Linked DNA regions of Homo sapiens: all the other regions are linked to region 1. Evidence: fine-mapped expression QTL. A gene starts in region 1. Each other region holds a variant in brackets. All regions are shown on one strand. Distances are between the middles of the regions.

Region 1 (8,183 bases):
AAACATTTAGGATGTTATATTTACTTTAGTACTTTATCAAATACCAGCTTTTATTGTTCTTGATTTAATACATGTAATCTAATCTCCCAAATATATATAACTGTTTATTAACGGTCCCAAATTTTTGAGACGGAGTCTCGCTGTGTCACCCAGGCTGGAGTGCAATGGCATGATCTCGGCTCACTGCAACCTCCGCCTCCCAGGTTCAAGAAATTCTCCTGTCTCATCCTCCCCAGTAGCTGGGATTACAGGCATGTGCCATCATGCCCGGCTAATTTTTTGTATTTTAGTAGAGACGGGGTTTCACCATGTTGCCCAGGTTGGTCTCAAACTCCTGAGCTCAAGCAATCCACTTGCCTCGGCCTCCCAAAGTGCTAGGATTACAGGCGTGAGCCACTGCACCCGGCCCCCAAATCTTATATAATCATACTTAAATTATTTTAAACATAGTTTTGTGTGGGGAAAAGAGAGCTCAGACTGTTACTGTGTCTATGTGGAAAAGGAAGACAAAAGAAACTCCGTTTTGATCTGCACAAAGAAAAATTGTTTTGCTTTGAGATGCTGTTAATCTGTAACTTTAGCCCCAACCCTGTGCTTACAGAAACATGTGCTGTATTGAATCAAGGTTTAAGGGATTTAGGGCTGTGCAGGATGTGCCTTGTTAACAATATGTTTGCAGACTGTATGCTTGGTAAAAGTCATCGCCATTCTCCATTCTCTATTAACCAGGGACATGATGCACTGCAGAAAGCTGCAGGGACCTCTGCCCAAGAAAGCGTGGGTATTGTCCAAGAATTCCCCCCACTGAGACAGCCTGAGATATGGCCTCGTGGGAAGGGAAAGACCTAACCGTCCCCCAGCCTGACACCCATAAAGGGTCTGTGCTGAGAAGGATTAGTAAAAGAGGAAGGCCTCTGTTTCCCGCATATCCCTGGGAACAGAATGTCTCCGTGTAAAGCCGACTATTCGTTCTATTCTGAGATAGGAGAAAACCACCCTGTGGCTGGAGGGGAGATATGCTGGCAGCAATACTGCTCTGTTACTCTTTGCTACACTGAGATGTTTGGGTAAAGAGAAACATGAATCTAGCCTACTTACACATCTGGGCACAGTACCTTCCCTTGAACTTATTTATGACGCAGATTTCTTTACTCACATGTTTTCCTGCTGACCTTCTCCCCACCATCACCCTGTTCTCCCACCGCAGTTCCCTTGCCGAGATAGTGAAAAGTAATCAATAAATACTGAGGGAACTCAGATACCAGTGCCGGTGCAGGTCCTCGCATACTGAGTGTGCCCGTCCTCTGGGCCCACTGTTCTTTCTCTATACTTTGTGTCTTATTTATTTTCTCAGTCTCTCTTCCCACTTGACGAGAAATACCCACAGGTGTGGAGGGGCAGGCCCCCTTCAGTTTTGGGTTGAATAATTTATAATTGTTCAGGAATGAGACAGTTTAACTTTTTCTTTTAAATAATTTCAGATTGACAAATATTACATACAAATAATTCCTATACATTCTTCACCCAGATTTCCCAAATGTTAACATTTTATCACATTCTTTATCAAGCAAACATTGGGTACTAACTTATTTATGAACATGTCAAAATCTGCACAATGAATAGTATATTCATTTATAATGATAAAAACACTTTACATATTTTTGCTGGCAGTAGGAATAAGAACACAAGTTAAAATCCAAATGTAATCTTAATTTTATTCCCTTTATTATCTCTTTAGTAAAAAGTTAGGTCAGTTGTTTCCGTTTATTTATGTCCCTACCAAAGTAGAAACAAAGTCCAATCTTGGGAGGATGTAGCTTGAATAACTGGTTTAGAAATGTACTTATTAGGGGTACTTATTAGGGATTAGTGGATAAGTGCTTAAATGGTTGTGGATAACAGTGCATATAGGACTCTCAAGTATTTCTATAACAGACACTTGTGCGTTCTACTCTATATTTGACATTTAGACAAAAAAATCAAATGAGTTCCTTAGACTATCACTTTTTCATAATAAAATTTAAATTATGAAGGCCCGTCCAATTCTAAAATGATGTGAACTTCAGGCAGGCTGATGGCACAGCAGGCAGTGTGGTAGCATGTGTATGTGAGTGTTTATGTGTGTGTTGGAGGTGGGGAGAGGGTTACAGTTGGAGCTGAGAAAGGAGTTAGGTTCTCACATAAACTCCAGGAATACAGCCTTGGGCCAGATGGAGGCAAACAGTATTTTCCTGCCTAATTGGTGGGAGTCGATGGCCCAGAAATAGGGTCTAGAAGGGAAACGGAGCTGCAGAGGTTAACACCTGGAGGGGTAGACCAACTATCGCAACTAAACTGGTTACCATTTGAGTGCACACTATATACCAGACACCGTTAGACACTGTGCAGACGTTCTCTCAAAACTTTTCACAACCATGACAGGTTGTAAGACAGGCTGTGGGTCTTCAGGGGTCGCGGGCATCCCCTAGACACAGCCGCAGGGCCTGCATGGAGTTCGCTCCTACCGGCGACCAAAAGCGCTCGCTCCGGCTCCAGCATCTGCTCACCCCCACGCACCCTCCCATAAAGGGTGGAGCGCAGCAGGCCTGGGTGACTGGAGTTCGTGGCTTCCAGCACTCCAGTTCCCGCCTCATTCACTCGCGCCCCCCCTCCCGCGAGGAGTTGAGAGCCGTGGGCTAAGTAAGTGAGGCACCGCAGCCGCAAGACCCACGAAGGGGTCAGAGGAATATCCTGCTTCAACTGCACTCCAGCCTGGGTGGCAGAGCAAGACCCTGTCTCTATAACACAAACAGAGAAATACCAAATGTGGCCGGGCGCGGTGATTCACGCCTGTACTCCCAGCACTTTGGGAGGCCGAGGCAGACGGATCACTTGAGGTCAAGAGTTCGAGACCTGCCTGGCCAACATGGTGAAACCTGGTCTCTACTAAAAGTACAAAAATTAGCCGGTTGTGGTGGCGGGCGCGTGTAGTCCCAGCTACTTGGGAAGCTGAGGTGGGTGGATCTCTTGAGCCCGGGAGGTGGGGGTTGCAGTGAGCTGAGATCGGGCCACACTGCACTCCAGCCTGGGCGACAGAGCGAGACTCTGTTTCTAAAAAAAAAAAGAAAAAAGAAAAAATACAAAATGAAATGTGAAATTTCAATGATTCTGCATTAGGAGTTAAATGTTCCTTCCCTTTAATAGCACTTTTCCCCTTCTTTTTGAACAAGGGACGCTGCATTTTCATTTTGCATTGAGCCTCACAAATTACACAGCTAGGCTTGCTGCTGAATACGGCAGTGAGGGACATGCCATACCAGTCCTGGAGCTTCGTCATTGCCCAGACCCTGTGGATCAAATGCAGTGGGCTGCCTAAAGGATCGGACTTTTTATCCCCGGAATTGTCCAAACTATGGAGCAAAGCAGGTAAAGAGACCAGATTACTTTTAAGGCCCGTTCAATCCTAAAATGTGAACTATAAAATAAGACTAGACAGCTTTACTGATTTTTGTGGTTTATCATATGAAAACAGAATTTTGAAAGCGGAAAAATCAAACCAGTTCATTCCTTTTTAAAATTACTTTGGGAGGCCGAGGCGGGAGGATCACCTGAGGTCGGGAGTTTGAGACCAGCCTGACCAACATGGAGAAACCCCCGCCTCTACTAAAAATGCAAAAATTAGCTGGGCATGGTGGCGCACGCCTGTAATCTCAGCTACTGGGGAGACTGAGGCAGGAGAATCGCTTGAACCCGGGAAGCAGATGTTGCGGTGAGCCAAGATCGCACCGTTGCACTCCAGCCTGGGCAACAAGAGCGAAACTCGGTCTCAAAAAAAAAAAAATTACTTTGGGAGAAAAAAACCCCACCAAAACTAAACTAGTTTACACTGTTTAATCTTAACTCAGGAACCGGTCAAGGAACTAATGGTGTGGGGCAGGGGGGATGTAGGAGGAAACTTAGGAAAAACAAATCCTCCACAGGTCTCACTTGTGACATGTTAGCCAACTCCTGGGAGGCAGAAAGGGTGAGCTTACGAAACAGGTGCAAAAGTGGGGAGGAGACCTGGGCGTGCTATGGAATAACACTGGCGTCCAGCACAAAGGTTACACACTTCGAGTCATGGTCAAAGAATGAGCCTTCTCCAATATTTTAACACACAAGGGTTTCTGAAGGCAGAAATAGACAAAGGATTACAAAACACTCAGGCACACATCCCACCCGTCACCCTCGCCACACACCCGGGACCAGATTTAGAAAGCCAGGCGACAGCTCAGCAAACGCGAGACCACCGGAAACGAACCGGGCTGAGAGGCTGTTTCCTCACAGTTCTCATCCACTCACAAGTGACCGCACGTTTTGTTTTTGTTATTTGCCGAAATGTTCTTGGCTATTCCACTCACCTAAACGGTCACGGTAGCAAAACACCCAGAGTCCGGATCTTCGCCTAGGCCAACCCCGCCTCCTCAGAATACGCGAGCTAGAGCTCCGCCCACGTTAGTCAGTCCTCCCTGCGCGGCGAGAAAAATGGCGCCCCCACGTCGCGTCTCCTCCCACCGCTCGCCTTCTTCCCGGAAGCTAAGTTGTATCGCGAGATTTCGGCCTGACTATTACTTGGGCCACGGAAATAGCCAACCCTTTTCTTCCGCACGGTTGGAGGAGGTCGGCTGGTTATCGGGAGTTGGAGGGCTGAGGTCGGGAGGGTGGTGTGTACAGAGCTCTAGGACACCAGGCCAGTCGCGGGTTTTGGGCCGAGGCCTGGGTTACAAGCAGCAAGTGCGCGGTTGGGGCCACTGCGAGGCCGTTTTAGGTAGGTTGCTAAGAGGGCGAGGCCGTCCGGGCCTGGCGGGCGGGGGAGGCGTTGCATATCTGGGGTTTCCCGGGGCCCCTTCGTTGGTCCGGAGGATCGAGACTCCGAAGTCGGTCCGAGAGGGTGAAGGGATCACGGCCGCAGGCCACTCCGCGCCACGCGGCTGGTATGAGTCCCACACAAACGTGGTTGTAGTGTGGACGGGCTTCATTATATCTTGAGATGGAGGTGTTAAATCGTGTTGCGGACAAGTTTAACCTTATTACGTGATTTAAATGATTTAACCTTCGTATGTGAGGTACCCATTACTCGCGCCGGTTTTCTGCAGGTTAGGCGCTGCCGGGTGAGAGGCGCTGGTGGTCACAGCGTTAGCTCCGGGTAAAGCGCCGCTCTCTGCCCACGTGGCCTCTAAGAATTGCAGAATCCCCACGGAGGCATCGACACCCAAGTAGGAGTGTCTTCTAAACACTTCGAAAAAGTGATTATTGAGCTAGCTTTATTTTGATAATCCCTACTTTTAAAAAAAATTAACTACAGGTATACCGTTAAAGCATGGGGGCAAATTTTTGTTGAATTCCGTTTTTGAGCATTCGATATTTAATGACTTTGTAGAATCTTGTACTTAAAAAAACTAGTAAGACCTTGTACCAGGAAAATACCACAGGGGGCATTTAACAAATCTGAGCTCTTGGTGACCTTATCGTTTCATATTTTAAATATTTTGCTAGTTCATCCTAGGATTTATATGTAATGACTCATGTCAGGTCCCAAGAAGCTACAGAATGAGACAAGAGATTGACTAAGGCATGTACAATAATGAAATAAGTAGTTATCTTTAATTTTTGTTGCCATGCCTTTTTTTTTTTTTTTTTTTTTTTTTTTTTTTTTCCTGAGACAGGGTCTTGCTCTGTCGTCCAGGCTGGAGTGCAGTGGTGCAATCTCGGCTAACAGCAACCTCCACCGCGGCTTAAGCGATCCTCCCGAGTGGCTGGGAGCAAAGGCACGGGCCAACACACCTAGCCAGTATTTTAAGAATTTTTTGTAGAGACAAGGGTCTCCTTGTGTTGCTGAGGCTCACTACATACAAGCTCCACCTCCCAGGCTCAGGTATTCCACCTACCCCAGCCTCCTGACCACAGGCGCGCGCCACTATTCTGGCTAATTTCCGTATTTTTTGTAGAGACGGAGTTTCACCACGTTGCCCAGGTTGGTCTTGAGCTCCTGGGCTCAAGCGATCCGCCCGCCTCGACCTCCCAAAGTGCTGTGTTACACAGGCCTGAGCCACCCAGACCAACCTGTTTTTCTTTTTTCTTTTAGCTCACAAGAAGGAATCTTTTTCTTTTTTTTTTTTTTTTTTTTTGGTATGTTGTATACTCTCTACCATGGGGATGAAGACACAAGAATTATGATAGTTCATTGAAAAAGGTTGAGAATTCAGAACTTGTCAGTTTCCACCAATAATGGCAAAGATACAATATGACAAAGTTCAGTTGCTTAAATGAATCTAGGAATGAAGAATCTAGGAATTATAATGGAGAGGTGATTAGGAGTTTAAAATGGTTTATTGATTGGAGATCCTTTTCCTGGTTTATATAGGGCACACTTTGCTTTAGGAATTCCCCCTTTGATCTTGGAAAACGGCTTTTAATTGTACATTAATACTGTATTGGTAATTGTACGTTAAAATATGTGGCTAATGATAAAACTACATTTTTTACTTATATTGAAAGATGCTTTTGTTGGAAGGGACGGTACTTTTTTGGAATCTTGTTGCGTTGAATACATTTAGAGGGTAACAACTGAAAGAACCTGTGAATAGAATTTCTGGATTTCTTTTTAAAGAAACTGATCTGAAATGGATAAGAAGCTTAACCTTGGTAAATGATTTCGCCTGAAATCATTGGCATAGTCTGACCACGTTCAACACTGTAGTAGATACTGTCAATATTTAGGGAAGCTTTGTCATATTTACTAAATTTCATAATTTCAGAAAACTGTTTAAAACAAAGAGCAATTGATGGATAAATCAGGAATAGATTCTCTTGACCATGTGACATCTGATGCTGTGGAACTTGCAAATCGAAGGTGAGTGGATTCAATCATGTTTATTGTATCTGAATTATGAGAAACTATTGTATATAATGAGTGACAGTAAAGATAATTTTCAGGAATTGGGAAAGAAGGAAAACTAGATTTCACTGACCTTCCAAGTTTATCTAGTTACATAGATTGATATAATAGCATTGCAAATACTTTAAATTCAAAATGTGAATATATTATGGGACACATTCGTCGAGAAAAAATGTATTCTTTGGGTCATATTAGCATCTCTTCCAGACTACATCCTCCGGTTCGGTAGGCTGTGTTTGTTTTACTCAGACACTCTTAGCAGTGAACCGAACCATACAGCCTTTTGGAGCTCATACATTGTCTTGAAAGATACAGTTTTTTTGTAAGCTGAGCATAGTGGTGCATGCCATTAGTCCTAGCTAGCTACTTGGGAGGCTGAGGCAGGAGCATCCCTGGAGTTTCCAGGAGTTTGAGGTTGCAGTGAGCTGTGATTGCACCACTGCACTCCAGTCTGGGTGACAGCAAGACGATGTCTACAAAACTCTTTAATAAGAGCTGTAGCATTATGGGCTATTTAAATAGGATGATCAGTAGAAAGGCTAGCTGGTTCTGAGCCCATCCTTTAAAAAATTTTTAATTCTGGGCATGTTTTCTGAGTTGGTCTTGGAAGAAATGTACATTTAGGACTGGGTATTAATGGTAATAAGCAGTAAGAAAAGAAGATGAAATTAATTTTTTTCCCATTTTTCTAGTGATAACTCTTCTGATAGCAGCTTATTTAAAACTCAGTGTATCCCTTACTCACCTAAAGGGGAGAAAAGAAACCCCATTCGAAAATTTGTTCGTACACCTGAAAGTGTTCACGCAAGTGATTCATCAAGTGACTCATCTTTTGAACCAATACCATTGACTATAAAAGCTATTTTTGAAAGATTCAAGAACAGGAAAAAGAGATATAAAAAAAAGAAAAAGAGGAGGTACCAGCCAACAGGAAGACCACGGGGAAGACCAGAAGGAAGGAGAAATCCTATATACTCACTAATAGATAAGAAGAAACAATTTAGAAGCAGAGGATCTGGCTTCCCATTTTTAGAATCAGAGAATGAAAAAAACGCACCTTGGAGAAAAATTTTAACGTTTGAGGTGAGTCAGCATTTTACATACATGGCTACACATAACTCAAGATGCCCAAAATGATTTGTTGGCCAATTTAGAATTGTCTCAGATATACTGGGAACAGACTGTCTGCAATTTTGATACTCTTCTATACTGACTTACCCCTAAAGTCCACCCTATCCTTCAACTGAATCTTGACTTGTATCTCTTA
Region 2 (8,183 bases), 220 kb after region 1:
TTTTTATCCCAGCCAGCCTGATAAATACAGGGCTTCCCCAGAACTCAACATGCTTCAGCCCTGGTGCTCCCTGATGGCCTGTCTGGCCAGACCCCCAGAGTTCTTGCTTTCTGGGCCAACTTGGAGGCAGAGACGAGCAGGTGGTGGAGGATTTGGCTAAATCTCCATTCTGGCTCTGGAGGCGGGTGTCTCCAGTTGCTCAACCTGATCTCCTTGTTCTTTTCTCAAGTTTCACACAACTTTTTATCCTTTCCTTGAACAAAGGCTTTTTATTTCTGGATGATGTTGTGAGAAGTTTTTGTATTTATAAGTAAGGCAGAAAAGAATGGATCATAACTACAAAATTTTATATCAATTACATTCCAAATTTGTTAAGAAATATCTATGTGTAGGAAAAAGACCATAAAGTACTTTATTTTAGTGGTCATCTCTGGATTTTCATATTATAGGAGGGCTTTTTAAGCATTTTTTTTACAATGAGCATGTACTGTCTTTATAACTATTAAAATTATTAATGATAATTAATTATTATTTATTAGGATTTAGTATGTGCCAGACAATGTAAGAACTTGCCATTACAGTATCTTATTTAATTCTCACTGTGAACCTATGACATTCCTATTTTAAAAAAACAAAATATACTGGGTGTGGTGACTTGTACCTATAGGCCCAGCTACTCAGGAGGCTGAGTTGGGAAGATCACCTGAACCCAGGAGTTTGAGGGCTACATAGCAAAACCCATCCTGTTTCTTAAAAGCAAACAAATATTAACCTAATTTTTGTTATTGTGGTGAAATATACGTAAAAATTGCTTTTTTAGGCTGGTTGTGGTGTCTCATGCCTATAATCCCAGCCCTTTGGGAGACTGAGGCAGGAGGATCACTTGAGCCTAGGAGTTGGAGACCAGCCTGGACAATATAGTGAGACCCCATCTCTACAAAAAAATTTTTAAAAAATTAGTTATGCGTGGTGGTGTGTGCCTGTAGTCCCAGCTACTTAAGAGGCTGAGTTGGGAAGGTCGCTTGAGCCCAAGAAGCTGAAGTTGCAGTGAGCTGTGATCATGTCCCTGCACTCCAGCCTGGGTGACAGTGAGACCATGTCTCAAGGAAAAAAATTGCCTTTTCAACTATTTTTAAGTGTATAGTTTTGTGGCCTTAACCACATCCCCTGAGAGATTTTTTTTTGGAACCCCTTATGTGATAAATGAGGACGCTGAGACTTACAGAAACAAAGCTACCTGCCCAAAGTCACAGAGCTAGTCAGCTTCAGAGGCAGGATTTGAACCCAGAACTGACATACTCAGAAAGGTCCCAGGTTCCTGGGATCTGTGGTATATAACAGTTGGAGTCCATGATCACTCTTCTGCCTCTGCCCACCATTTGACAGTAGAAAGCCATTTGCTAGTGTATGTCTCTTTTTTGAAACTCTAGGGGTTGGATTGTGTTTGCCAGTGAGGTGGTGGTCAGCCCGATTTAGGGTGTGTGGCTGACGCAGGTGCTGCCTGTCAGCGGTTGCCAAGGTTGGTTTGTGAGCTCTGTTGTGTCTTGAGAAGGTTGAAGAGTGGGCTGCTGTACTGAGAGGGTTGTGTGTCGGAATTCTGTCTCTAGAAGGTCCTCAGCAGTGCAGTGGAAAGGGCAATGGCCTAGAGCTCAGATATGTGGCCTTGTCAGGTCTGGGTTATTTTGGAGAACACACATTGAACTTGGGAATTAGTCTGTACTTTAGTCCTGATTGTGCCGTGTGGTAGACATACTTAGGCTTCCATTTCCTCATTTCTCAGTGAGTGATAAAAATGCCTGTTCCACCTGCCTCCCAGGATGGTGGTGATGATTAAATGTCATGATGTAGGGAAAAAGTGCTGAGGAAACCACAGGGCTCTCAAGGAAGTTTCTCTGATGAGAATTTTGAGTGTACAATGGTGCGTGAGAACAGTGGGGCTGACCTTGGAGATGTGAGGAGGATGGATGCGGATGTGAAGAGCAGCAGGTTTGCTTTATTTCATTTTTGTTTTTGGCAGCAGCTTGTTTCCTCTACCATCGCTTCACTGGTGAAGTATAATGTTCCACTGTCTACCTGGTGTTGTACTGCCTAGTGCTGAATGCTCTAGGATTTCACTGGAATTTGTCCCTGCCAAATTCCTTGGATTCACTCTCCCCAAAACTCTCATCTCTTTGGTGAAATGAGTTGTAATTTAGGAGATCATTCTGTAACTGCGGTGGTTGAAAGTACATAGCAACTTTCCCTGGTCTTGTTTGTCTTCCTAATTTTTTTTTTTTTTTAGCAAATATTTGTCTGTTTCTGTTCTCTAATCTTGAGCAGCCAAGCGTGTGAGTGGGCTGGAACCTGGTGGTCTGCCCCTGGGGAGGGGAGGGGGTCCCCCTTGGGTGGTGCTTGCTCTTCATTGGACCCTTTCTGTGCTTGATGCTTTGTAGAACATCAAGGTACAGTAGGCAGAATCCCTTGTTTTATGGGAAGATATGTATACTCAAACCAATATGAGTGTTAGGGATAGACAGCTTGAGAAGTCCCTGTCATGAGAGGTGTAACCCTCAGTCCAAGTGGATGAAGATGGATTATTGGGGATAGTCAGAGAGGATAAACTGTTGGCAGGACTTCTGTGACTTTTTGCTTTTTCACAACTGTTTGAATCAGCTCTTTCCAAGCTGGGGTTTCTGTCCAGCTATCCTGAGATAATTTCTTGAGTCATCACTGTTGCAGTGCACGTTTCATCTGACAGGAAAGCAGGGGCCCATGCAGGGCTCTGCTGAAGTCAGTGGCCCTGTCTTGTTTTTTGGCTTTGAGAATGGTACTCGAAGACTAAGTAGGTCACAGATATCTATTTTGAATTGAGTATGACTGGGCTGCTTGGACATCTAATTTCCGGATCCAATCCTGTTGGTCGCGTTTGCCCAGGAGTTTGGCAGCAAGCACTCTCTGGTTGGTCGTAGGGTGTATTTATAAAGTGGGAAGAGTCTGGAGACACTGCAGTTCTCTATTCCTGCAGGAGAGCCAGGAGTGGGTGGGCTTCAAAACCCTTTAGGAATGGGGGGAGTGGAATTTTTCCACCTCACTTCCTTAAATTTTCTGAAA[A/C]TTGCTGATCCTCACTAACTCTATGGAACTTTTTTCTTTCAAGGAATCAAATTTAATTTTTACCCAATATTAGCTGGCCTCTGCTTCAAGTTGGATAATAGCTTCAGTTGCTGTGTGCCTTGCCTTTTATGCAGATTATCTCATTTAATCCTCACAACAAGCTCAGAAAGTGGTTATTATTTTCTCCATTTTACAGAGGAAAAGACCTGAGAATCAGTGGGGCAGTAATTTGCTGACAGACCCAGTGTGTAAGTAGCAGTGCTTGAGATTCAAACGTAAGATCTTCTGATCAGAGTGTGGCCTTTTGCTGCATAGCACAGTGGTCTCAGGAGCCCTGGGAGGTGTTCTGGCCACAGCTGGAAGTGGCAGCAGGAGCCCTGGGAGAGGGTATTCTGACCACAGCTGGGAGTGGCAGTACAGTAGTGGCTCCTTGGCCCATTGTGGGTTGAGTGCAACCTTCCTCTGAGTAGAGGCCAGCTGTGGGTGTTGGGGATGTGGGCCGCCCAGCCCAGGGAAGCATCTGTCTTTGTGGAACTGGAGTTATGTTTTATGATGTCACTCTGGTGTGACTGGATCACAGAATTCTGAGTTTATACCCTTTGTTGGATTTTTTTCCTGTTTCACTATTTTTCTGTGGGTCCTTGCCCAAGACCTTGGATGAGTGCAGTGAGCAGGCGAGATCTGTGAGTTAACATAGGTGGGGAACGCATTGGATGCACCACCTCCTCTGTGTGCACTGGCTGTTGACCCACCATTCCTCATCATCAGTACTCCGTGCCTTCCCTGCATTTTGGAGGACTAAGCACTTTTGTAGCGGGGAGTGTGTGTTTTGCCTTTCTCTTCAGTTTGTCCCCATAAGCTACTTCCAGGGGCCTGGCAGTAATGCTGCTGCTCCAGGTCATTTGTGTTTGTGGAGTGTCAGAGTTTTCAGGACTTTGCCCAGAAAGTCTTGTCCAGTGCTCCCAGGGAGTGGTCGTCATCATCTCCATTTTACAGATGGGGATTCTTAAGGGAAGTCACTCTTAGGTAGCATACTTCTATACCATAGCTTCCCCTGTAAGTTTCATAAAACACAACCGAGAAGATGCCTGTTTAAAATCAGCTTGTATTCCGAAAGTGAAAGAATGCCCTCTTCAAATGCCCTGGGGATCGTGTACACAGTAGGGTTCTCTTCTCCCTCAGGAATGTGTGGTCCCATCCTAGGTTCCCTCCCGGCCGTTTCCTGGCTTTGTGAGCCTGAGCTGGTTACTGAACCTTTCTGAGTCTGTGTCCTATAAATTGGTGATGATAGTACAATCTAAAAGAGGCTGTGGTAAGATATATATGAGATAGTGTATGTGAGATCACCCAGGCTCAATGTGTTGTAATCGCTTGTTTTTATTTTTCAACCAGGATGGCTTGAAGAAAATACAGATCTCAGCTACAGAGGTTGAGGCCTGAGAAACTCCCCTCCCCTGAAGGGCATTAGTAACTGATCTTCCCTGCACACTTCCTCCCCCAAAACAAGAAGGAGAGGATGAAGCTTAAAAACCCTGTTTCAGCTAGAATCTTTCCAAGGTTTTCTCATTCTTTTGGTTTTGGAATGGGGTGCTGATATATGCTTCATTTACTGGAAACCAAAACTAAGGAAGTCCATGTTAACCACACAGCCTCTCAGAAATGCCCAGTATTTTTAAAAATGAGGAAATGCCAAAACACGATTTTAGAAAGCGGGGTATTTTAAATTTACATATTGGACGTGTCAGCACTTTTAGCACACACACTTTCACTGATTGTATAATTATCTTGAAAAGACTTAAAAAACTAAATTTGAGGTTTTCTGGTCTCATTTCTTGCGGGGTCTTGCTCTGTTGCCCAGGCTAGAGTGCGGTGGCATGATCTCAGCTCACTGCAACCTCTGCCTCCCAGGCTCAGGCGATTCTCCTGTCTCTGCCTCCGGAATAGCTGGGACTACAGGCATGTGCCACCATGTCCAGCTAATTTTTTATATTCTTGGTAGAGATAGGGTTTTGCCATGTTACCCAGGCTGGTCTTGAACTCCTGAGCTCAAGCAATCCACCTGCCTTGGCCTCCCAGAGTGCTGGGATTACAGGCGTGAGCCACTATGCCCGGCGTGGTCTCACCTCTTCAAAGACCTAATCAGCGTCTAGTGGGTAAGTCTTTTTGTTTTTTTTGAGACAGGGTCTCACTCTGTAACCCAGGCTGGAGTGCAGTGGCGTGATCACAGCTCATCTCCTGAGCTCAGGAAATTCTCCTGAGTAGCTGGGACAGGCAATCCTCCTACCTCGGCCCTCCCAAAGTGCTGGGATTACAGGCATGAGCCACCGTGCTTGGCCAGCTCTTACATTTTTGGTCACCTAGTGACAGACCTTTTTTCCCTTCTCCTCTCTCTCCTTTCCACATTAGTTTTTATGTTTGAGCCTAGACAAGTATAGGGGAAATTCCAGAGGAACCAGCAAAGTGACCTGCAATTTTTGATCTTTGGGGTTTCCAATTTTGTGTATTTGCTGTGTGATCTTGAGCAATTCTCTTACTTCAGGTCTCAAGGAACTTAGCATCTCGTAGGGGAGATAGAACTGGAGTTGATAGCCCTCTTATTGCTGTGGCTACAGACAAGGATTCTTGTCCTCAGTGTGGTGGTAGTGGTTTTTAAGTCTTTATGTGTTATAAATTAGAAGTTTGCAAGGTGTGGTTTTTGACACTAAGGGAATTGCAAATGGGATCAAGGACTAGACTTCCCTGCATGAGACACTCTCTCATCAGACACTCTCTCATCAGACTCCCAGACTTATGTTATACCACCTGGTGCGGTCAGTTACAGTTACCTGTTTACCTGGCCACCTGCCTAGATTAACAGCAAGCTCTACAATGGCGGAGACTTGGCCTATGCCCTGTTATATCTTAGGCATCTTATTTATTGTACTTCCATGTGGAATACAACGGATGCCTGCATAAAAGATTTGAAGGATTTCGAATCACTTAACATGGTAGCAGGCCGAGGGGTGGAATTGGCTACCACAGGTCTTGTGTTGCGTAAACTGGTCGTGCCACATGACCAGACTTGTCTCCCTTCCTCCCATGCCCACAGCCCCTCTGCTGAGAAAGACAGAACCAGTACCAGGTAGGTCCCTTGTAAAAAGCCAGAGGGGTGAGTGGAATTATCTTCTGTTTTATAGACCAAGATCTGGAGAAGTCACATAGCTAACATGCCAGAGAGTCAGCATTTGAATGTGGGCCTGCAGGAGTCCACTTTTTATACCCTTCACAGATCGGATATGCTGGTGCATCTGCCCCTGAGGACATATTCAGCGATACAAATCCAATTAACCCGATAGCCCAAGAAACTTAAACTAGTCTGAGGAAGAACTTCCTGACATTTTGTTTTTGTTTTGTTTTAAAGTTTGTGCCAAAAAGGGGCTAGAGTTGGGGCTTTTCAAACTGTTAATCACAATCCACAGTCAGAGAATTGATTTAGTGGGTTGATACATTTTTAAATGAAATAGAACAGTGAAAAATAACAATGTGTGACACACAGTAAGGCTGTGTGTAGGTGCATCCCTCCCAGGCCATAATAGAAATACACTTCTGACTGTGGATCAATGATCAAAATATCTGAGAGAGATTATAGCTTCGATTGGTATTGGCTAGATTGCGAAGTCCTTGGCGGCAGGGATGTTCTCTCTTTTATGTTCCCTTCATCCTTAGTCCAGTACTGAGTACTTAGCTGATTGGTTGGTCTGTCTGGGAGAATTTGTAACAGTTCACCCCTCAGACTGGAAGAATAGTCAGAATGATGTTAAGGACAATTTGCAGAATACTGTCTCTGCAAGGAAATGACAGGTATTCTTACCCTTGCTTTATGAATGAGGAAAGCAGAAAGACACCGAGTGTGATAGTTAAGAGCTTGGGGTCTAAAGTCTGAGAAACCTGTGTTTGAATTCTGTTTGTGCAGTGTCATGGTTGTGTGACTTTGGGTAACTTTTTTAAGCCTGACTTTGTCCATCTTTAGGCAGGGTATGATGAGGGTACCTACCTCAGGTATTATGACAGTTAGATGAGTTAGCTCGAGTTTAGTGGCTTTAGCACAGTGCCTGGCATCTGATAAGCAGTTAGTAAGCATTATCTGCTGCCCTTCGTTTTATGATTAAGAGAGATTAAGTGACTCATGTTGGGTCCCAGGGCACCAGCTGGAGCCAGGCCCACTGCAGGAGCCCCTTCTAGAGTTGCAGATCTGTGATGGTTATTGATCTTGATCTAAACTTGTAGCTCTAATCTGTGGTTTGGCTGTGGCAGTGAAAGGAAGTGAATGTTGCAACAGAGCAGGTGTGTGCATACAAAGAGATGTCCTGGTTTTGCCAGTTAGAGAAAACAGCATCTTCCAGAGATATGGCTGCATGTGGAATCTGAGAATATAAATGACATTTCTTAGGAAAGCCAGGTGCTTTGTATTTTCATCAAAAACAACAGTTTCCTAAAACTGAATATAGCAATGTATAGGCTTAAACTGGTGGTTTTGTGTCGACACAGTGATAATTTTAGTGGAAACTCCAAGATTTGGTAAATACTGATTTCTGAAATCACTCACTGAGCCTAGCAGCACCACTGTGCACTTAGAACGAAGTCCTTGAAAATACGTGACATGCTGAAGGTGAAAGGCACTGGACAGAAATCCCAAAGAGACTTGGTTTTGGCTTTAGCCCCTAATTTGCAAGTCTGGGTCTCTGTTCAGTTCTCTTTTCCAGGCTGGAGAGTTTTGAGCCTTCTTTCTCCTTAAAGTCAAAATAATTTTGTTCTTTATATCCCGAAGTGTTGATTGTCTTTGTATCTTGATAGGAAAAGGTAGTATATGTGAAAAATTATCTAATGGTCAAAACTTGCTGGTTTATACTTTAGTTGAAAATAGCCTTTTCTGCCTTGTTTGGAAGCAATATAGTTTAGGGATAGTTAAGTATAATGGTCAAGAGCAGAAACTTTTAGCTGGATTTAGGTTCCTGTCCTGCCTGTGCTTCCAACAAGGTGTTTGACTTTGGTGCCTTAACCTCTCTGCACCCTGTGTGTAAAGTGGGTTAATAAGAGAATTGCTACCTTGTAAG
Region 3 (8,183 bases), 490 kb before region 1:
TGTCTTGCCAAGGTTAAGAATTACTGCTCTAAGACAGTCCTGGTCCAGCTGCCAAACAGAATAAAAACAGGCCATCCTGAGCTTACTCCAAATATCCTGTCTCCCGTCTCCCAGACTGGTTTCAACTATGCCTCCCCATATACACCTCAAGGCTGGCTGTACTCCCACTTAGCTCCTGGTGTCTGTCCATCCCGACCCCTGGTACCTGGCAATCCAGGCCTCTCAGGCTGGGTGTGACTCTCACTCCCACTCTCTGCAGCCGGGACACTCCATCTCCATCTAACTTTGTATGCTATTGGGTGTGATTCCCCGATTGCTTCAGGAAAGTCTCACTTCCTTAAGGAGATTTTAAACTCATCCAAGTCAGAGTCTTAATCTATTTCCGGGAGGGACTAGCATACTATTGAGCATATAGCAGTCAGAGCCTCAATGTCTTTATCTGTAAAATGGAGATATCTGTAAAATTGCCTGTAAAATAGAAATATATATAAAATTTATAGGCACAGAAATTCATATCTTATTCCAAAAGAGATACTTGACATGATGTATAAAAAGTGCCCAGGAAGATCTAAAACACAGCAAGGACCCCATAAGTGGTAGCTATTATTGGATCCATTGAAACCCAGGCATTATGACTTCTGGACCAGTGTTTCTTCTAGATCTCAAGTCAACATGACCTACCAGAAAATAACAGTATCTGAGTCATTCAGAGTACTAATGATGTGGCATCAGGAGCCCATCAGCCATGTCAGCCTGCCTGTGTACCTTATGCTAGGCCAATGCTTAACTCATTCTATGAAAGATGCAACTGGCTGGCATTGGCCTTCCTTTTTCTCTTCATTCGGCCTGGATTTTCTGAGAAGACTGTGAGGACCTGCTGTTCTGGACAGTGTGTAGGATGGGCATCTTGTTTTGCCACTCAGCAGGAGGAAGGACACATGCTTTCTGTTTTGTCGTCAAAGGAAATAACAACTCTCAGATGTTGCAGTGTTGCCAATAGAGAGAGAATGCAGAACTGCCCCAATCCTGCCTCAGTTTGTCTCTTCTCTTAAGAATCAATAGTTGTCAGACTGGAAAAAGCAGGGTCATACTAGCTAGACCCTATAGAGATCCAAGAGCAAAAAAGACCATAAGAGAGTTCAGAATTCATCTAAGTGACCTTGAGGCTCCCCTGATAGAATAATTCTCACTGTGCTGGGAGAAGTTGCAGATGTAATTGCGGATCTTTTGTTAGTACTTTGGGGGAAGTAGTGGAAGAGAAGATCAAGACAAGGGAGACCACTGTTACCCTGTTTTAGTTAAAGTGACTCTAGCTGCTGTATGCTAAACCTTGCAGTCTCTGTGACTTAGCACAATATGGGTACGTCTCCCTAGGACACAGTCCGGTGTGGTGGCATGGCCCAGCAGCCTTCAACATCAACATTCAGGTGCCCAGTCTCTTTCCAACTGTGGCTCGGCCTTCCTTATGGTGGTCCCATTCAACTGGTAAATGAGGAGAGAGACAAAGAAAAAGGTACACCCACCTGCTTCTGTCCAGAAATGATACCTACTACTTCTGGCCATGTTTCATTGGCCAGAGCTCAGTCATATGGCCACAGCTGATTGCAAGAGACATGGAAAATGTGGTCTAGTTGTGTGCCCAGGAGGAAAGGGAAATGGGCTGGATACGACAAAGCAGCAAGCCAAAACATAAAGCTAACTGAAATACAAATGCATTAGTATAAATTAAGTATTCAGAATTTTAATGTTGATGTCCCAATTTATTTCAAGCTGGTAAAGACAACCCTTGAGTATTTTGTTCCACTCAAGATGCTACACGAACAGAGACATTGAAATACTGGAGTGTATCAAAAAATGAGTGCAATAATCTGAACACTTGAGTCCCCCCAAAATTCAAATATTGAAATCTAAATCCCAATGGCATGATATTGGAGGTGAAGCCCTTGGGAGGTAATTAGATCATGAGAGTAGAGCTTTTATCAATGGGATTAGTGTCCTTATTAAAGAGACCCCAGAAAACTAGCTAACCCCTTCCACCATGTGAAGACACAGAAATAAGGCACCATCTATGAACCAGTTAACAGTTCCTCACCAGTCCCTAAATCTGCCAGTGCCTTGATGTTGGACTTCCCAATCTCCAGAACTGTAAGAAATAAATTTCTGTGGTTTATAAATTAGCCAGTATATTAGTCTGTTCTCACACTGCCAATAAAGACATATCCAAGACTAGGTAATTTATAAAGGAAAGAGGTTTGACTGACAGTTCAGCATAACTGGGGAGGTCTCAGGAAACTTACAATCATGGTGGAAGGGGAAGCAAACACATCCTTCTTCACATGGCAGCAGCAAGAGGTGCAGAGGGAATTGGGGGGAAAGTCCCTGATAAAACCATCAGATCTCTTGCGAACTCACTCACTATCAGAGTAACAGCATGGAGGTAACCACCCCCATGATTCAATTACCTCCCACTGGGTCCCTCCCATGACATGTGAGGATTATGGGAACTACAGATGAACTACATTTGGAACTACAGATCGCAAATGTCCCCTCCTTTGTGAGCCTTCTCTGTGGCCCCCAGGTAGTCAGAAAATCCCATTCTCTGTATTGTTGTGTCACCTTGTTTGTATATATAAGGATCCAACTCCATCGCTCTTCTCTTGACTTGAGCCATGATGGCTCGTGACCTGGGACCATACTTTATTCTCCTGGAATCTCCAGCAGCTAGAACAGAGTAGGCTCTTAATCACTGATTATTGAATAAAAGATTTCTGGCAGGGAATCATCTGAATTAATGACACAGCCCTGGCTTGCCCTGCCATGGAGATGTACCACAGTTTCTACATTCCAACCTGGTGAGAAGCTGATCAAATATACATTTTAAGCATAATTAATATAGAAAAAGAAAGAAAATGCCAAGTGTTGATGAGTATGTGAAGGAACTGCAACTTTCATCGACTGCTGGTGGGCTGTATAAATTGGTACAATCTCTTTGGAAAACAGCTCAGCCATATCTCCTAAAGCTGAACATATGTATACCCTATGACCCAGCATTTCACTCCTAGGTGTGTAGCCAATAAAAATGCGTATATCTACTCACCAAATGACATGTTCTGGAATGTTGAAAGCAATACTATTTATAATAGTCACAGACTAGTCACTGCCCAAAAGCCCATCAAGAGTAGAA[C/T]GAATAAATTATAGTATAGGCTACAGCAATAAAAATGAACTATGACTACACACAACAATGTGGATGGACCTCACAACTATAATGTTGAGTGAAAGAAGTTAGACAGGAAAGTGTCTATATTGTTTTATTCTATCTATATAAACTACAAAACAGTCAAGTTGGAGTCAGAATAGTGACTTCCCTTGGAGGTGAATAATGCCAAAATAGGATAAAAGAGTTTTCCTGAGTGCAGATAATGTTTCTTCATCTGACAGTTGGCTGTAAGAATGCATTTGTTTGTGAAAATATATTAAGTCGGAATTTTGACTTATGTTTCTTTTGCTGTGTGTATATTTTGATAAGAAATTGTTTTAAATATTAGTATCCTCAAACCACAAAAGTCTCAAAGAACTTGAGACTTCACTGTGCCTAGATAGGTCTTGCATATGGTAAGTTCCAGAAAAAAATAATTTGGAAAATGTTTATTTAGCCATTGTTATGTTTAAGACCCAAGCAATCCAAAGATGAATAGGACAAAATCCCTGACCTCAAGCAACTGATAATATTGTTTAGAATAAAGCAAGATCTCCGATTATAACATGGCTAGAATGCTGTCAGTGGGATATGGGAAAGGATGATAACAGCTAGCACAAAGTACACAGGTACTATGTGCTTTATGCATATTAATATTTCATTTTCATAGTATCCCTAAATATAGATATTACTATTATTCCCATTATATAGATGAAGATATTGGGGCATGGAGAGATTGAGTGCTTTGCATCATCTTCTCTGTTCCTCTCCAACTTACTATCCTCTAATATTCAAGCTCCTCTTTGCTCTGTTTTCATCACAGTAGTCTCAGTTTCTCTAGGTGGGTCCCCTACCTCCTGCCCAGGACTTTGCAGACACTATTTCCTCTGCTGGAACCATTCTCCCTCCTCTAAGCCCTGTTATCGTCCACTCATTTATTAGCTCTCTACAAAAACATCACTTCCTCAGGGACTTCCAGATAGGTACAATCTGACTGTTATAGGTTCTCAAACACCATATGCTTACTACCTTCACAGCATGTCTCAGCTGAAAATTTACATATTTTTAGTGAGATGATTTTATTAAGACTTTCTTTATCCCTAGACTATAAGCCTCATGAGAGCAGGAACCATGCATGTTTACCACTGTTATCTCAGTAGCTAGCATAGTAGATACATAATAAATATGTGCTGAGTAAACGAGTTAAGTATCCACCATGGCCAATCACTATATTTTTAAGTGATACAAAATTTAGAGCAAGAATTAAATATAAATGACATGATATCATCTGGTACAATTTTCATTAATTAAGTGTAATCACTGCTTATTCTTCAAAGCCAAGCAGAACATGTTCTTCTAACTTACTCTGAGCCTTTTCATTAGAATAATAAATTTTTAGAAATATTTAGAAACACATTCAGAGGTCTGTCTACAGCCTGTTTTCCACTTTCCTGTGGTTTTCTTTCTTGCTCTGGTAGGAAAGAGAGTCTTTGAGTTGCCTGCTTAAATGTTCTCAAGGGAAAGGCCTTAGTTGTCCTGCCAACCCCTTTGATCTTTCCTCAAGGCAGAAGCAGAGAGATAAGACTGTGGGGAAAAAGATTGAAAGCATAGCATATGCCTATATATCAGCAGTGTGCATCCCAATAATTGTGTTTTTCCAGTTATTGGTTTTCCCAACAGTAGACTGGGCTACCATTCTAGAAACTTTTTCTCCCATAAGATGGCTTAAAATTCCCAGAGAAATAGTATCTTCAGTAAACTCTTGGGTTTCCAGAGGTTATAACTGGGTCTCTGACTCTGCTTTCTTGATTTTAAATGTAAGTTTTTTGCTGCAATCAAACAGAATATAATAACATTCTCAAAGAGAGACAAAAAAGCAGTTGTCCACTGTAACTGTGCTATGTTAGGAATTTTATCTGATCTAAGAGTCAAAGGCTATTCCTGGTGTCAACCAAAGTGTCTTCTGCTACATCATCAAAGCTTTTTATGATGGGTTTCAAGTTTGTAGGGTACTGATGCTACAAGTTCATCACCTTTTCCACATGTGAATACACCTTCCTGTAATCACCCAATCTTCCAGGGAAGCAAAAAATAAAAATAAATAAATAAATAAAAAATTCCATTAGAACATTCCTTCGCCCTGTGCAGTACCTGAAATGTGAATTTCCAACTAGAAGCAAAAAGTTAAGATCTATAGTTTTATCCCAGCATCCTTCCAAAGGGCTCAATATTTGGGAAACCAACACGAAAAACAGTGCAAAGGTGCCACCAGTCCAAGTGAGCATAAATGCTTCCCTAAGGGATTCTTGGAAGATCCTTCCAGTCATCAAGGCTGTGCAGATAAGATGCCCACCTCAGCCCCAGTGATCACTCAAGTATCTGCCTGGTAGGGGCTTAATACAAAATCTGTCCTCCAATTCCAAACGCCTGCTTCATAGGCAGGGGCCTAGGAGATTTAGCAGCTTTTGTAGGGGGGAACTTGAGGCCAGATAATAATCGATATCCAGTCACCTTATAGGGAGCCAATACATTTTTGAGAGAGAAAAATGTAATAGTATCTTACTAGGGAACCTCCTAAGGCCCTCCTTCTTAGCAATCATACTAGAACAGTAAAACAAGAACAAACAAAAATTCATAAGATTAAAACAAATCTCCCCAACTACTCCCAGAGAACAAACACTGACATTTATCCCAAGTAGGCCTTTTTTTGCCCTACTCTTTGAGAACATAATGGGATCTTTGAGTGGTGGTTTCTTTCTTTGAGGAGAGTCCTCACTCACATAAATTGCTGTTAAGTTAAGCGCTCTGCCAATCTCTGAATCTGTGGCTCAGCATTAGGACAGATGAAGAGAATCTAACTCTTTAAGAATACTTGCTATCTGTCCAGTGTTCACATCTGCAGTTTTACTTTTACCTCACAACTACCTGAATTAGAATGGAAGCCATGAGGCACATATTTCTGTCTAGTTTTTCCACTGCCATATCCCTGGCACCTACAATAGTATCTGGCAAGTAGAAGATGCTCAATAGAAACATGAATAAATGCAAGCATATTATTATGGATACCATTATTCCTGATTTTCAGTTAAAAAACTGAATCTCAAAGAAATTATGAAACATATTCAAAGTCACAGGTTTTGTGAGTAGCAGAGGCCTTTCTGATGCCAACTTTTATGCTCCTTCAACTCTGCCTTTCAAGGCTCATTCTTCAATTTCCCTATCCAAGAAAGCTTCTTTTCTCAATGTTTGTCTTCCTTATCTTTCTCCTCCTTTTTCCCCTCCTTCTTACAAGCTACACCACACTTATAGCCAGTTTATTCTTTTCTTTCTCCTGTGCTTGTTCATCTGCGCAAAGAGGGGAATAACCTCCACTCTTATGGAGAAAGAAACCTCCTTATGACAATAAGGAAGAGAGAGGTCTGAGCTGTAAAGGTGCTGTACCTACTGCTGAAAACATGGACTGCTCCTAAATGTGTGATTTTTTGTGTGTGTAGTCACCCATCCAGAGAAACGCTTGTTAGACCTCAATGCCAGACCAAGGTTTCTCCTCTTGAACTACTGGTTTGGTTTCCTTTTGAAGATAGTCTGATTCTTCTTGCTGATTCTTTTTCTGTCGTCATTTGCTCACTACAAACCTCAACGGTGGGAACTTTACAATGTGTGCTTCTCCTCACCAAAATTGGTAGCCTTTCCTTCAAAATTCACATCCACTTGGATTCTCAGAATGTGACCTTACTAAGAAATAGGGTCTTTGCAAAATGTAATTAAACTAAGAAGAGGTCATACATGATTAGAGTGGGCTCTAAATCAATGGCTGGTGTCCTTACAAGAAGAAAAACAGAAACAGACAGAAATACAGGAAAGAAGGCTGTATGACGATAGAGGCGGAGACTGGGATGATGCAGCTGCAAGCCAAGGAATGCCTGGGATTGCCAGTGACCACCAGAAGTTAGGAAGAGGCATAGCAGGATTCTTCCCTAGAGCCCTCAGAGGAAGCATGGCTTGCCTGGTACCTTGATTTTGGACTTCTAGCCTCCAGAACTGTGACAGAATAAATTTAAGCCACTCCATTTGTGGTACTTTGATATGGCAGTCCTATAAAATTAATACAGGGAGTCTGAAACATCTTGTTATGCCAGAAAGCAAGGAATCTATCAAAAACCAGTAGGACCTTTTCAAAAAAACTCAGGAACTAAGTTGAGGAGCCTCCCACTGGCCAAAGATGAAACAGCTTGAACAACAATAAGGATAAAAACTAAAATGAATTTAAACATGTTAAGTATGTTTAAATTCATGATTTATAATAATACAGAATTGGTCATTGATCATCTTTGGAGGGTGCTCTAAACCCTACATATTATTTGAAAACTGGCAAATAAAAGGAAATAAGCATATTTCCTTTTTTCTTCTGGGTAACAAATAGTTAATGAAATGAAGCTTCTCTATATAAAAACAAAGAAGGAACGATAGAATAAGAGCATCAACATTTGTAACCCCTAAGGAATTAACAGATCTAAGTCATGATCAGCAACAGCTGCTGGCATCACAGAAAGAGAAACGGTCGGAACTTATGTGCTTCCTGAAGGAAATACTCACCACCACTTATGAAATGGTCTGCACACACACACACACACACACACACACAAATGTGAATCTGATTAAGTCTCTAGATTTACCTACCTATTTGCAAAAAACATAGAGAACAGTGAAACATGTTCACCATGACAAATGAAAAATGGCATCATGAAGATGAGTCAGCAACATCAAGGCTGTGGGAAATCCTATAGGAATAACAACTTGTTTTCTTCAACAAATAATTGCAAGGAGAGGAAAACAGATGAAGGGTGTATTACTAGATAAAAAAGACATATTATTCATAGAAATGAAAAACAATGAATGGCTCTTAATTGAACCTGATTCAAACAAGCTCTATCTATCTATCTATCTATCTATCTATCTATCTATCTATCTAGCTAGCTAGCTAGCT

Which allele goes with the higher level. Alleles are on the strand shown, and positions count from the first base shown. SD is a standard deviation of normalised expression in the study named. Not every link is listed here.
As copies of A replace C in region 2, the expression in unexposed skin of the gene that starts at base 4,613 in region 1 goes up (small effect, 0.24 SD a copy in GTEx).

Evidence for each region. PIP is the estimated chance that this variant, and not a neighbour inherited with it, causes the effect.
Region 2: its variant is fine-mapped to the expression of TAF1D in unexposed skin (GTEx, PIP 0.97).
Region 3: its variant is fine-mapped to the expression of TAF1D in whole blood (TOPMed, PIP above 0.99).

The regions. Positions count from the first base shown.
Region 1 is chr11:93,737,925-93,746,107 of GRCh38, reverse strand. TAF1D (TATA-box binding protein associated factor, RNA polymerase I subunit D) reads left to right here and starts at 4,613. Exons shown (of 6, transcript NM_024116.4): 1 at 4,613-4,786; 2 at 6,777-6,871; 3 at 7,609-7,999. The coding sequence starts at 6,804. C11orf54 (chromosome 11 open reading frame 54) reads right to left here and starts at 4,436. Exons shown (of 9, transcript NM_001286069.2): 1 at 4,380-4,436. RefSeq lists enhancers at 2,684-3,223, 3,744-3,863, 3,630-4,315, 4,444-4,953, 6,991-8,183.
Region 2 is chr11:93,520,397-93,528,579 of GRCh38, reverse strand. The region is part of intron 1 of SMCO4 (single-pass membrane protein with coiled-coil domains 4); the gene reads left to right. Among named protein-coding and RNA genes, the nearest start is that of SMCO4, 19 kb to the left of the region's middle. RefSeq lists enhancers at 1,203-1,252, 1,633-1,802, 1,833-1,932, 4,381-4,480. The variant A/C (reference allele first, on the strand shown) is at 3,091.
Region 3 is chr11:94,223,940-94,232,122 of GRCh38, reverse strand. All of the region lies in intron 3 of LOC105369435 (a long non-coding RNA gene), which reads right to left. Among named protein-coding and RNA genes, the nearest start is that of IZUMO1R, 77 kb to the left of the region's middle. The variant C/T (reference allele first, on the strand shown) is at 3,185.